2 separate regions of the Homo sapiens genome follow, and region 2 is linked to region 1. A link means that fine-mapping ties the variant in region 1 to the expression of a gene that starts in the linked region. Tissue or cell type: atrial appendage. Region 1 holds a variant in brackets; the other region holds the start of a gene. All regions are shown on one strand. Distances are from middle to middle.

Evidence for each region. PIP is the estimated chance that this variant, and not a neighbour inherited with it, causes the effect. A credible set is the group of variants that fine-mapping cannot tell apart.
Region 2: it holds the start of SLC45A2, and the variant in region 1 is the best candidate, but not a certain one, in a credible set for the expression of SLC45A2 in atrial appendage (GTEx, PIP 0.56).

Annotation. Positions count from the first base shown.
Region 1 is chr5:34,471,490-34,479,064 of GRCh38, reverse strand. No RefSeq gene overlaps it. Among named protein-coding and RNA genes, the nearest start is that of RAI14-DT, 180 kb to the left of the region's middle. The variant T/C (reference allele first, on the strand shown) is at 4,434.
Region 2 is chr5:33,980,069-33,987,643 of GRCh38, reverse strand. It overlaps SLC45A2 (solute carrier family 45 member 2), which reads left to right and starts at 2,951. Exons shown (of 7, transcript NM_016180.5): 1 at 2,951-3,445; 2 at 5,232-5,408. The coding sequence starts at 3,061. It overlaps AMACR (alpha-methylacyl-CoA racemase), which reads left to right. Exons shown (of 5, transcript NM_014324.6): 5 at 1-1,479. C1QTNF3-AMACR (C1QTNF3-AMACR readthrough (NMD candidate)) reads left to right here. Exons shown (of 9, transcript NR_037951.1): 9 at 1-658.

The sequences.
Region 1 (7,575 bases):
CTTGTAAGTATTACAGTTGATAGCTAGTCAGACACGAGCAGGATAGGAGAGGGCTCCCTGCCCTCACCACCAGGAATGTTGATGGTGGTGACGGTCAGGTGGTTGTTAACTGTCTCTGTAAAGTAATAATTGGTTGCAGCCAGTGCCAGGGAAGGGCAGTCTTCCAGTAGATAGAAAACACCTAAAACTGGTGATCAGCAGCTTCCTGATAAGACCTCAGGAGTTGGGCAAGTGGGCTCAGGTGAGCACATATGGACAGCCCACCTTAAGGGAAGAATCAGGGGAGAAGTAACACAGGATCCCAGAAATATGCCGATACATAAAGCCCGAGGTCAAAAGGTCGAACGGGGCACTTGATCTCTCAAAATGCCCTCCTGGCCCTCTTCTAAGTGTGCTTTTCTTCCTTTCATTCCTGCTGTAAAGCTTTTTAATAAACCTCCTGCTCTAACACTTGATGCAGTCTCTCTCCTTCTGCCTTCTGCCCCTCAAATTCTTTCTTCTGTGGAGGTAAAAATTGAGGTTGTTGCAGACCTGTCTGGATACGGATTTGCCCTGGATTAACTGCCCTAAACAGTTCTATTGACTCTCTCCCTGACAGTGTCACTTGCCAGCCTATCTTCACAGGTAGAGGACAAGGACAACACCAGAAATCATCCCTTTGCCCACCCTAAGACGAATGCCTCATTGACTTGTCCCATTCCTTCTTGTCATGTGTTTAGTTTACCTTACATAAGATGTAGATTTTCCAAGAGAGACAGGACATAATTGACCTCCCTGTACAGTTCTGCAGATAGTACAGGCAGCATAGTGCCAGCCTCTGGTTCTGCTGAGGTCTTAGGATGCTTTTACTCATCACAGAAGGTGAAGAGGGAGCAGGTGTGTCCCACTGATGAGACAGGGAGTGAGAGAGGGGAGGAGGTGCCAGGCTCTTTAAACAACCAGCTCTTGCCTGAAGGAACAGAGCAAGAACCCACTCATTACTGCAAGGAGATCACCAAGTCATTCCATGAGGAATCCACACTTATGACCCAAACACCTCCCATCAGGCCCCACCTCCAGCAATGGGGACCCCATTTCAACATGAGATTTGGAGGAGACAAACCAAACCGTATCAGGCAGCTAGTGTGAGACCCTTGCAGACCCCCATGGGACCTGCCGCTGTAGGTCAGCTGAAGCAACCACGCCTCTCTTCTGGTGGGCTTCTTCTGACTCCTCTCTCAGGCCCTGGGCTTTGGTTGCCTGGCCCGTCAGGGTCGCATTTTGATCCCCACAGAGTCTTCTCAGAGGGGCTCTGTTTCACAGCGCCACGTCTGGCCCCAGCAAGCACGCACACTTGCTCCAGCGCAGCCGTTGCCCCCTTCTGCCTGTTCCAACCAGACCCTGAAGAGAGATGTCGAAGGTAGGTGTGGCACTGATTCCTGTGTCCTCTAAGCCCCTGTGACATAAGTCAGGGTTCATTCTCTCATGACTTTCCCTCTTAATCCTCCACATCAATGTACCCCTAGACCTCCTCAGCCTCAACCCCTTTGTGTGTGTCAGGTGAGTGATGAAGCAATGTGGTGTGGTAGTCAGCTCGGCTGCCATCACAAATACCCCAGACGGGGTGGCATAAATAACAGAAATGTGCTTTCTCACAGTTCTGGTAAGTCCGGGCTCGAGGTGTCAGCCTTGATCCCAGTGAGAGCTGTTTCCTGCCTTATCCTCGGATAGCCTTTCTTCCGAGGGGCTGGGGAGCCACATGCATGAACTCTCTGGCCTTTGACGTCTTTTCTGGTAAAGACGCTAATCCTATCAGATCGGGGCCCTGCCTTATGACCTGATTTAACCTTAATTACCTCTTAAAGATACCATCTTAAAATACAGTCACATCGAGCGTTACTGCTTCCAAGTCTGAATTTAGGGGTAGGGGGTACAATTCAATCCACAGCAGCTGGCAAAACCAGTTTGGTTTACCTTCTGGGATAGTCCTGCTTAAATGTTCTCAGCCTTGATCTAGAAGCAGGTGGAAGGGCACTTGGCACTTGCTGCTTTGTTGTTTCCTTTGGAGAAGGGTAGAAACTCTTAAGACAACGGGATGCATCACCTTTCCCTTCCTATAACATAACCTGTCATTGTGGAACTGGAGAACCCACACCATGATCCTTCTCACAATTAAGGATGCATCTTCCCCTGAAAGCATAAGCTCCTTACGGTCAGGGGGTAAATCTTAGACAGTGATCACAGTGGTCGTTTGTTTGTTCTACCTATGGAAAAGCTCAATGGTTATTCACTAAGATGAACTGAAGCAAGGGTTGTGGAAGGTTCACTTTGCCACCTGTCTGCATAAGCAGGGCCACCGTAGGCAGCGATCCAGGGATCAGTTACTTCCCAACCAATCTGTTCTGTGGGAGTTGACACTCCTCATCCTTATTGAGGTCTATCACAGAGTTGGTATCCAGAGAGAAGGTAACAAAGGAAGGCATTTTCTAGCAAGTAGCAGCTTTTATTATTTTTAAATATTTTTATTATTTTATTATTTCCTATTTGCATAGGAAACGGTGGTATAGAGGCATCCATTATGAGCTGGTCACAGAGGTGTGCCTCCATGGTGTGACAGGGTACTTACTGAAGAATTTTGAGTTTACATTTTATTTCTTTTGTGGAAAATAGCAGCTGGTACTTCTTTGCTTTAGGGAAGGTTTATAGCAGGTTGAAAGCAGGTATTGCTTTCAAACCATCTCCTCTTAACATTTGTTTATGGATGCTTAAATCCATTGAGGAGAATAGAGTTTGATGTCAGAAAAGAAAACTAGCAAAGAGCTGCCTCACCCATTGTCTTTATGTTTCTGAAATTTGTGACACAAAGAACATTCTACAGCCCATCAATAGCTTACGTTATTTTAATGTAAGTTCTTGGTAAGCAACTTAGGAACTGCTTTAAAAACCCACTTCCTTTAAAAACCCACTTGTAACTGCTGTTAATGGGAGCATAGATTCAGGGCAACTTGGGTCTCTGCCCCTTGGTTGCAGTGCTCAAACTTGGCCCAAATAAACTCTCTACTTATGTCAATTCTGCCTCCATTTTTTCCTTTAGATGGACAGAGGTGAATGAAAGAGAGGGCCTTGGAGGGCAGCCTGAAGAGGAAGAGAGGGACGCAAGGCCAGCATAAACAAAAGAGTAGTCCTGGGGTGCTGGGAGGAGAAGACATCTGTGCCTTGGGTCCTAAGAGTGCTCTGAGGATGTGAAAGGACCCAGAAGGACAGCAGAGAGGCCTGTCCTATGTTCCTTGGTCCCCAACCTTGCCAAGGTGCTCAGGTTCCAAACCTGACACTAAAGCAAGACAGCCGTAGGCCAGATGAGGTCATGGGAGCAGGAACAATGAACATTGAATTAACATCATTGTCTGGGGTAAATACCTGAGATTTGTTGTCTCACGGCGGCAGAAAACTAGGAAGGGGATAAAGAGTGAGCTTAGCGGAAGTTTAGTAGGCGAAAGAAAGAGAATAGCTCTCTCTGTTGCGAAGATAGGGGTCCTGAACAGGTTTTTCGGTTCTGTGGTGAAATGCAGAGGGTTTTATAGATGAGCTTGAGGAGACAGTGTGTGATTTACATAGGGTACGAATGATTGGTGGGACTAGTGTCATTTGCATAAGGTGCGAAAAACTGGTTAGGGCTAGGTATGCCATTTGCATAGGGCCCAAAAAGCTTGCTGACCCCACGCTAATCTTTTATTATGCAAATAATTCTCTACCTGGCCAGCGCCATGTTGCCTATTTCTTTACTGTACACGTGGTGACAAAGAAAAGGGAAGATGGAGCCTCCATGTTGAACATACCTGGCTTCCAGGTAGCCCTTTTCTATTGGCATAGCTGCCGGCATTCACCCGTGCAAGCTTCCAGCTTGCTTATCTATGTTCGCAGCTAGATTTTCAGGCTGCTCTTTGTTAGAAAAAAATGCTTTCTTGGGCTGCTTTTTGTTAAAAGGGAAGCCTTGCTGAGGACTTTTTTACCCTCACTATCTGCCTAAATAATTTCTTTCTATCTCCTGTCTCAGCATCTCAGTGGTCCTCATTGAGAACAGGTAACCAGTGCCAGCAGGGGCTCCTAGTTCATTGGTAAAACCCTGAACATTGACACCTTTCATTTCCCTGGGGTTAAATGGAAGAGAGAATTGCCCCAAGAAGGACGGAAGTTTCATTTTCTTTGGCTCCTGAAGTAGTACACAAGCGGATTTATAGAAAACAAAGACCTTTAGTATTTCTTACATCCTAGAATCTGGAGACTTGAGATTCATGCCTATTGCATTATTTCAGAAAAGAGATTTGGTTGTGAACTCTGCTCCAAGACATTGCTTGGTCAAGGAAGCCTAAGTTTTAGCCACCTGGACACGATCTCCATCTAGTGGTCATACTATGTAACAGCACTTGCACACAGCTTTGAGAGGTTTGGTATTC[T/C]GTATTTTGCTCTTCTCCGGAGAAATTCAATATAGCAGAAATATAGTACATAATATAATGCAGATATGAGAGATTCTACAGCCTACAAACAGTTCTAAAACGGGCTAGAATTTGGGAGGTGAAGCAACAGGGTAGCATTGTAATTTTATTAAATTTCAGAATAATTTTAGATTTATGTTAAAGTTGTAAAGTGGCCAGGCGCAGTGGCTCACGCCTGTATCCCAGCACTTTGGGAGGCCGAGGCGGGCAGATCACCTGAGGTCAGGAGTTCGAGCCTGGCCAACATGGTGAAACCCCATCTCTACTAAAAATACAATAAATTAACCGGGTGTGGTAGCCCAGGCCTGTAATCCCAGCTACTTGGGAAGCTGAGGCATGAGAATCGCTGGAACCTGGGAGACAGAAGTTGCAGTGAGCCGAGATCATGCCACTCCACTCCAGCCTGGGCAACAGAGTGAGACTCTGTCTCAAAAAAAAATTAATAAATGAATAATAAATAAATAAAGTTATAAAGTGATACAGAGTTCCCATACACACCTCACCCAGGTTCCTCTAGGTTAAAATCTCACATTACCATGATACGTTTGTCAAAACTAAGAGACTAGCATTTCCACATTATTGTCAAAATCCAGACTGTATTTTAATATCACTAGTTTTTCAACTAATGTCCTTTTTCTGTTCCAGGATCCCACTCAGGACAGCACATCTCATTCTGTCCTCATGTTCCCTCAGTTTCCTCTAGTCTGTGAGAGATTTCATGACAGCAGTTTTGAGGAGTAATAGCCAGGTATTTAGCCAGTTTTGAGGAGTAATAGCCAGAATGTCCCTCAATTGTAGATGTGTGGTGTTATTTCTGAGGCCTCCGTTTTGTTCCATTGGTCTACATCTCTGTTTTGGTACCAGTACCAGTTGCTGTTTTGGCTACTGTAGCCTTGTAGTATAGTTTGAAGTCAGGTAGCATGATGCCTCCAGCTTTGTTCTTTTTGCTTAGGATTGTCTTGGCTATACAGGCTCTTTTTTGGTTCCATATGAAGTTTAAAGCAGTTTTATCTAGTTCTGTGAAGAAAGTCAATAGTAGCTTGATGGGAATAGCATTGAATCTATAAATTACTTTGGGCAGTATGGCCATTTTCATTATATTGAGTCTTCCTATCTATGAACATGGAATTCTTTTTCCATTTGTTTGTATTCTCTCTTATTTTCTTGAGCAGTGGTTTGTAGTTCTCCTTGAAGAGGTCCTTCACATCCCTTGTAAGTTGTATTCCTAGGTATTTTATTCTCTTTGAAGCAATTGTGAATGGGAGTTCACTCATGATTTGACTCTCTGTTTGTCTGTTATTGGTGTATAGGAATGCTTGTGATTTTTGCTCATTGATTTTGTATCCTGAGACTTTGCTGAAGTTGTTCATCAGCTTAAGTTTTTAGGCTGAGAAGATGGGGTTTTCTAAATATACAATCATGTCATCTGCAAACGGAGACAATTTGACTTCCTCTCTTCCTATTTGATACGCTTTATTTCTTTCTGTTGACTGATTGCTCTGGCCAGAACTTCCAACACTATGTTGAAAAGGGGTGGTGAGAGAGGGCATCCTTGTCTTGTGCTGGTTTTCAAAGGGAATGCTTCCAGCTTTTGCCCATTCAGTATGATATAGGCTGTGGGTTTGTCATAAATAGCTGTTATTATTTTAAGATGCGTTCCATCAGTGCCTAATTTATTGAGAGTTTTTAGCATGAAGGGGTGTTGAATTTTGTCAAAGGCTTTTTCTGCATCTATTAAGATAATCATGTGTTTTTTGTCATTGGTTCTGTTTATGTGATGGATAATGTTTATTGATTTTCATATGTTGAGCCAGCCTTGCATCCCAGGGATGAAGTCGACTTGATCATGGTGGATAAGCTTTTTGATGTTCTGCTGGATTCGGTTTGCCAGTATTTTATTGAGGATTTTTGCATCGTGTTCATCAGGGATATTGGCCTGAAATTTTCTTTTTTTGTTGTGTCTCTGCCAGGTTTTGATGCTGGCCTCATAAAATGAGTTAGGGAGGATTCCCTCTTTTTCTATTGTTTGGAATAGTTTCAGAAGGAAAGCTACCAGCTCTTATTTGTATCTCTGGTGGAATTCGGCTGTGAATCCGTCTGGGCCTAGGCTTTTTTTGGTTGGCGGGCTATTAATTACTACCTCAATTTGGTGTTGGTCTACTCAGGGGTTAGACTTCTTCCTGGTTTAGTCTTGGGAGAGTATATGTGTCCAGGAATTTATCCATTTCTTCTAGATTTTCTAGTTGTTTTTTTTTTTTTTTGTGTGTGTGTGTGTGTGTGTGTGTGTGTGTGTAGAGGTGTTTATAGTATTCTCTGATGGTAGTTTGTATTTCTGTGGGATCAGTGGTGATATTCCCTTCATCATTTTTTATGGTGTCTATTTGATTCTTCTCTTTTTTCTTCTTTACTATTCTGCCTAGTGGTCTATCTACTTTGTTAATCTTTTCAAAGAACCAGCTCCTGGATTTGTTGATTTTTTGAAGGTTTTTTTTGTCTCTATCTCCTTCAGCTCTGCTCTGATCTTAGTTATTTCTTGTCTTCTGCTGGCTTTTGAATTTTTTGCTCTTGCTTCTGTAGTTCTTTTAATTGTGATGTTAGGGTGTCAATTTTAGATCTTTCCCACTTTCTGATGTGGGCATTTAGTGCTATAAATTTCCCTCTAAACACTGCTTTAGCCTCTGAGTTCTAATTTGATTGCACTGTGGTCTGAGAGGTTGTTAATGATTTCCGTTCTTTTGCACTTGCTGAGGAGTGTTTTACTTCCAATTATGTGGTCAATTTTAGAATAAGTGTGATGTGATGCTGAGAAGAATGTATATTCTGTCGATTTGGGGTAGATATCTGTCGACATCTATTAGGTCTGCTTGGTCCAGAGCTGAGATCAAGTTCTGAACATCCTTGTTAATTTTCTGTCTCCTAGATCTGTCTAATATTGACAGTGAGGTGTTAAAGTCTCCCACTATTATTGTGTGGCAGTCTACTTCTCTTTGTAGGTCTCTAAGAACTTGTTTTATCACTCTGGTTGCTCCTGTATTGGGTTCGTGTATATTTAGGATAGTTAGCTCTTCTTATTGGATTGATCCCTTTACAATTATGTAATGCC
Region 2 (7,575 bases), 490 kb after region 1:
ACTTGATTTTTTATCAGATGGCCTGGAAAACCCAGTCTCACAAAAATATGAAATTATCAGAAGGATTATAGTGCAATCTTATGTTGAAAGAATGAACTACCTCACTAGTAGTTCACGTGATGTCTGACAGATGTTGAGTTTCATTGTGTTTGTGTGTTCAAATTTTTAAATATTCTGAGATACTCTTGTGAGGTCACTCTAATGCCCTGGGTGCCTTGGCACAGTTTTAGAAATACCAGTTGAAAATATTTGCTCAGGAATATGCAACTAGGAAGGGGCAGAATCAGAATTTAAGCTTTCATATTCTAGCCTTCAGTCTTGTTCTTCAACCATTTTTAGGAACTTTCCCATAAGGTTATGTTTTCCAGCCCAGGCATGGAGGATCACTTGAGGCCAAGAGTTCGAGACCAGCCTGGGGAACTTGGCTGGACCTCCGTTTCTACGAAATAAAAATAAAAAAATTATCCAGGTATGGTGGTGTGTGCCTGTAGTCCTATCTACTCAAGGGTGGGGCAGGAGGATCACTTGAGCCCAGGAATTTGAGGCCACAGTGAATTAGGATTGCACCACTGCACTCTAGCCCAGGCAACAGAACAAGAACCTGTCTCTAAATAAATAAATAAAAATAATAATAATAAAAAAGATGTTTTCCCTACAACTCAGACTTTTCATTTGAACTCGGTCCAGCAAGGAAAATATAACCCACTCGAAGTCTTTAAAACAGAGGAAATTTAATATAAAGAATTCCACTGGTGACGAAAGAGCAGAGAAGCCCAGAAGATAGTGAGGCAACCCTGATAGGAACATAACTAGGAAGCCAAGACCACTCCTATGGTTGCAGGGGTGATGGGAAAGCTGGTGTACTTGGACCCAGAAGCCAAAGTTGCTGCACCCACCTTGGAGACATAGACACTGGCAGTAATACCTCAGGGAGAAGAAAGAAATCTAGGGAAATATCCTGGCTTCTTTCCTTCTCTCTCTCCCCTAGTCTTCCTACCAGTGTCTCCCATTAGCCAAATCTACCTAGAAGCCAGAAAACAAGGGAACCCTGGAAATGTAGCCCCATAAGATAAAGAGCACCAAAGGAAATAGATCTGAGCAGACAGGCAGCACAAAATGCAGTGTGTATGGTTTATTCACTCAGTAATTCCTTTAGCAAATGTTTATTGAGGATCTACTAGGTGCCAGGTATCATGATACTTGCTGGGGATACCATAATGAACAAAACAGACCTGTTCTCCGCTCTTGAGGAAATCAAAGACAAACACAGGATATGGAATAAACCCAGAATTATCTCATTGTAAAATGTGTTAAGTACCACGAGGAGAAATATCAGGGCGATCTGACACAGCTAATGATTTGAAGAAGGGTGTGACCTGCCACCATTTTAAATCTAGTTATTTCACTCCTGAGCTGTGTGTGTGGAAAACTTGTAGTAAAAAATAGAATGTCTATATTTATAAAAAGTTTATGAAAAGATATCAATTTATTTACATTTTGACAAACTCTATGTAATAAGGCTTTATTACCTCACGGCCATGTGTGTGATCATGTGTAATAGCATGTGTGTATGAGAGAGAGAAGCCATATGTAATTATGTGTAATAACGTCTGTGAGAGAGAAGCCATGTGTGTGATCATGTAAAATAACGTGTGTGAGAGAAGCCATGTGTGTGATCGTGTAAAATAACGTGTGTGAGAAGCCGTGTGTGATGTGTAATAACACGTGTGTGAGAGAGAAGCTATGTGTGCAATCATGTGTAATAGCATGTGTGTGTGAGAGAAGCCATGAGTCCGATCATGTGTAATAACGAGAAAAGCCCCATGTGTGATCATGTGTAATAGTGTGTGTGAGAGAAAAGCCATGTGTGTGGTCATGTGTAATAATGTGTATGAGAGAGAAGCCGTGTGTGATCGTTGTGTAATAACGTGTGTGAGAGAGAAACCATGTGTGATCATGTGCAATAGCATGTGTGTGTGAGAGAAGCCATGTGTGATCATGTGCAATAGTGTGTGAGAGAGAAGCTGTCATGTGTAATAATGTGTGAGAGAAGCCATGTATGATCATGTGTAATAACGTGAGAGAAGCCATGTGTGACCATGTGTAATAACGTGTGTGAGAGAAGCCATGTGTGTGGTCATGTGTAATAAAATGCATGAGAAGCCATGTGTGATCATGTGTAATAGCATGTGAGAGAGAAGCCATGTATGATCATGTGTAATAACGCATGTGAGAGAAGCCATGTGTGACCATGTGTAATGTGTGTGAGAGAAGCCATGTGTGATCATGTGTAATAGCATGTGTGTGAGAAGCCATGTGTATGATCATGTGTAATAACATGCATGAGAGAAGCCGTGTGTGATCATGTGTAATAGCATGTATGTGAGAAACCATGTGTGATCATGTGTAATGTGTGTGAGAGAAGCCATGTGTGTGATCATGTGTAATAGCATGTGTGTGAGAAGCCGTGTGTGATCATGTGTAATAGCATGTGTGTGTGAGAAGCCAGGTGTGATCACGTTTAATAGCGTGTGTGTGAGAGAAGCCATGTGTGTGATCATGTGTAATAATGTGTGTGTGAGAGAAGCCACGTGTGTGATCATGTGTAATAGCATGTGTGTGTGAGAGAGAAACCATGTGTGTGATCATGTGTAATACTGTCTGAGAGAGCCCATGTGTGTGATCACGTGTAATAACGTGTGTGTGAGAGGGAGAGAAGCCATGTGTGTGATCACGTGTAATTGTGTGTGTGTGTGAGAGAGAGAGAAAGAGAGAGGGAACAGTACAAAGGAGGATCCCTTTAGAAAAGTATTCCAACGTCTTATGGAGCCAGAGGGCTGATTCACAGCTGCTAATCTCTGTCATGCTTTCCAGCACCACCCCCTCCCTCTCATCATAACTTGTGATCTTAGAGGCAGGAAAGAATTTGAGCCCCTCCCCCAGCCTGACCATCTCTGTTGGTTGCTCGGCCAGGCTCCACGTCAAATCCAGTTTGAAACACAGACCCTAGGACCACGCAGGAGGTGGTGGGCTCGCAGGAAGGTTCCTCTCCCAGTGGCCATGGGTAGCAACAGTGGGCAGGCTGGCCGCCACATCTATAAATCCCTAGCTGATGATGGCCCCTTTGACTCTGTGGAGCCGCCTAAAAGACCCACCAGCAGACTCATCATGCACAGCATGGCCATGTTCGGAAGAGAGTTCTGCTACGCGGTGGAGGCAGCGTATGTGACCCCAGTCCTGCTCAGCGTAGGTCTGCCCAGCAGCCTGTACAGCATTGTGTGGTTCCTCAGCCCCATCCTGGGATTCCTGCTGCAGCCCGTGGTCGGATCGGCCAGCGACCACTGCCGGTCCAGGTGGGGCCGCCGGAGACCCTACATCCTCACCCTGGGAGTCATGATGCTCGTGGGCATGGCTCTGTACCTCAATGGGGCTACTGTTGTAGCAGGTAAGTGGGCTGCACAAGGTGGGCAGACAGGGATATGTGTCTTAGTGTGTACCTCTGCAGGAGGAGGATGTTCATGTGTTTGACCTTTCCTAGAAATTTGTTAGAATTGATCTCTCCTAGGTTACAATGAACTTCCCCTTTGACAAATTTGGCCCAGATTCTGTGGTTGGGGAGCCTCTACTTCTAGAAATATCAAAATAAATATGTTTCATTGTTGTGAAGATTTAAAAATAGGATTAAATTTGTATCTATTTTATTAAATTTGTATCTATTTTATCGAATTGAATATTTTTACATATTTATCAATTGAGTTACTTTTTGAGCCCATTATGCTCTATTTAATACTCTTATCAAATTGACTGGCTGCCAAATAGCTCCATAAATATTTACAATAAGTCACCTGTGTATCCAAATAAGTTAATTCTGTTCATAGTTTTATGTAGAGCGTTTTAATAGGCGTAGGGCATAAGCCCATCAGCTCAAGAGGACCTTTCTGGCATTGCAAATTCTGGACAAAAGCAAACCTGAGGGTAGGCATTTTTTCTAGCCATTAATCAGCTACCAATTAATCAGTAATTGATGGTAGTACAATAAAGTTGCATTGCAAAAAGGATCGCTAAAAATAGCACACATTTGTAGATCATTAACTCTCAAGCTAGCAGAATCGGTGATTATGAGGCAGGATAATCAATTATCATTTGTACATATTTGAAAGAAAGCGTAAATGTACAAATGTAGGATATTTCCAGGAGAATGAACAAAAAGCTGATAAGCATTGTTGACTCTAAGGAGGATTACTGAAGGACAGGAGGTGAGAAGTGGCGGGTAGACTTATTGTTCATTTAATTTTATACTGCAATTTTTAAAACGTGTATATAATCTATGCTATTCTTAAGTTTAAAAAGCAAATGGAAACAAGAGAAACAACAATGTATCTTTTATAGGAGATTGGGTAAACGATTACAGCGTATCCGTAGAATGAAAATCCAGCTGTTAAAAATTGTGAGGAGCTGAAATTATATGAAGAAAGTTGGTTACTGCATCAGTGCTGTTCAAAGATGTGGCCTCTGACCTGCCCCTCAGCATCAGCAGAGACCGTTAGAGATGCAGTTTCTCGGGCCCCCTTCAGGCCCACCAATTGAATCAGAGTCTTGGGAAATGGGGCCAGCAATCTGTGTTTTAACAAGACATACAAGCGATAGTTCAATATGCCAGACTTTGAGAAGCACTGCGTTTGACTACCATTGTACACGTGTGTCTGTATGTGCAGAAGTGCGTAAAAGGAGGCCTTAAAGCCTGACCTTTGCTGGGGCTGGGATTGGAAGCATCTCCCTCAGCTTTTTTAATAGAATTGGAATTGCTTGCGATAAGCATGCATACTTTTTTATTTAAGGAGATATTTTACATACCAGAAATTTCACTAATTAAAAGTGTACAATTCAGTGCCTTTAGTATGTTGTGCAACCATTACCACTCTCTAATTCTACAACATTTTCATCACCCCCAAAATAAACCCATTACCATCAATAGTCACGTCCACTTTTCCCCTATGCACCAGCCCTAAGCAACCACTAATTTACTTTGTGTCTCCATAGATTTGTGTTTTCTGGACATTCGCTTGCATAATTTTTAAAACCTGAAAAAAAATGTAAAGCTATTTTTATTTGGAAAAAAGCAAAATAAAAGCAAGGAAGATGATTTTATGGCAAGAAGTTTAGGTGGAAATTACAAAACGCGGATGATTCTAAAACAGGATTTAGGAGACCAATGTTTATTTTTCTTTTAGCTTTGATTGCTAACCCAAGGAGGAAGCTGGTTTGGGCCATAAGTGTCACCATGATAGGTGTCGTTCTCTTTGATTTTGCTGCCGACTTCATTGATGGGCCCATCAAAGCCTACTTATTTGATGTCTGCTCCCATCAGGACAAGGAGAAGGGCCTCCACTACCATGCCCTCTTCACAGGTAGGGAATATTCCAGAAAGTCTCTCCTTCAGCTCCCCAGACAATGAGGCACTTCCACTAAAGCCATCCAGTGTCTCTACACGTGGAGTTTTTTGAATGAACGGGTCAGCTGATGGGCTGCTCCCGTCATGCGGGCACTGTCTCCCCGTGCATTTCTCTGAACAGTCAGCTTGTGACTAGTGCTGCAGTTTCTGCAAAGGAAGTTTACAGAAGAGCTTTCTTAAGAATGCTTTGTGGAGACAATTACAACTGAAATGGAAAGAAGCCTTGTGGATTGTACTTTTGCATTAGAGCAGAGGATCTCAAGCATCAGCAATGTAGCATCCACATTCCTTAGAAGGTCATTGAAAATACAGTTGCCTGGGCTCCTTCTCCAGTTATTCTGATTCAGTGAGTCTAAGGCGGGGCCCAGACATTTGTATTTTATTTAATAAAGACCCCAGATGATTTTGTGGCAGGTTTAAAAAACAAAAAGAGAAAACAAACCAAGCAAACAAAAAACTCAACGTCTTAGAAATTTCTTAGTTATGTAAAAGGTTGGCATTTCCTCAACCTTGTGGTTTGAAAAAGTTCATGCCAGGAGGAAAATGGGAGCTCTCTTGATCTCTTGGGACTGTTGCCAGCCTACTTTGGTTACTGTTGGTCAATTGTTTAGAGCAATGCTACTCAGAGCACCAGTTAGGACTATGCTAGAACTAGGCATTGAAATATAAGGCGACAGGAGGATCCTGGCCCAAGAGGATTTTTATATCTAAGAGGGGGACTCTATCAGCCCACCTTATTTGATTGTCTTTGTAGCCCAGCCAATGCCTTTATTTATGTTTTGATGTATTCTCTCTCCTTCCATGGCCAGGTAGGTCCATGAAAAGCAAGATTTCAAGTTTTGCTCATAGTTTCTGTCTCTAGAGCTAAGACTGCTGCCTGCCCATGGAAGCCACTGGAGCCAATATTTGTCATTTGAGCAAACATTTGAATAGTTGAAAACATGAAGGAGTGAGGCCGTTGGAGCACAGTTGGTAGATCCTCCTCTGTGTAAGGAAGGCAGAGGGGCAGGAGTGCAGCCCCGTCTGTCACTGGCCCCTGCCCACTATGTCTCCAGGTGTTTAAAGGCACCTAAGACATGGCCAGGGCTTGAGACTTCCCCTGCCTCACCTTTGCTCTTGGCTTCCCTTCCCACTGCACTTTCCACGTGTGTCTCCTCACTCGGGTGCTCCCACCCCGCTGGCGTCCTTCTGTCTCTGGGGTCAGCCCAGCCCATCATACCTGCCCCAGGGTTTGGCATGAGCTCTTGCCCTGCCTGGGACACCCTTCCCCATATAATCCCATAGTCATGCCTTTATTCCACTCAGATTTCTCATCAGATATCTCTCATCAGTGAGGTCTTTCTTGGCTACCGTACCTGGCATAGTATGACCACTCCTCTTTCTCCTCATCCTTATTGGGTTTGATTTTTCTTTCTAGTGCTTATCAATACCAGACTAACTGACTGGCTATTTATTTATCTATCATCTGTCTCTCTCTCTCCTTCTCTTTTTTCTTTCTGGTTGTCTCTCCCATTTAGAACATCAATCCCAGCTGAGCAGACCTGTTGTTTTGTTCTCTGATGAATCTTCAGTTCCTGGAAGTGTCTGCTGCATAGTAGGTGCTCAGTAAATACTGAACAAACATTTCTCAAATACCCCATGTATGATAATAACCATGTATTAGGTATTTTCTCTTACATTATCTCGATCCTGACAATGGCCATGTGGAAGTGGTGTGATTCCCATTTTTCAGATGTGGAAGCTGAGCCTTGAAAGCAGTGGTGTGCTTACAGCTGGCTCATGCTGGCTTCTTGAGAATCAATTGTCAAATTTTAGGAATTCAGTGAACTTGTTGACATCATATTGCTGGCTTGAAACTGGCCATGATGGCAGTATTAAAACTCTAGAAATTGGCAAAGCTATAAATCATGGTTTTTTTTTTTTTCTTGGAAAGCCAGTTGTTAAATATTTACCTGAAGTCCACTGATTGGAGTAGGAGGGGGGTTCGGTGATTAAGTCACTTGCCCATAGTCCATAGCCGGAAAGTCTCATTGAATAGATTCCAACTTCATTTTCCTAACTTGAATCTGACAATTCCTTCTGTTTTATTATAATTTGTTGAAATTAATTACAAGGTCATGGGA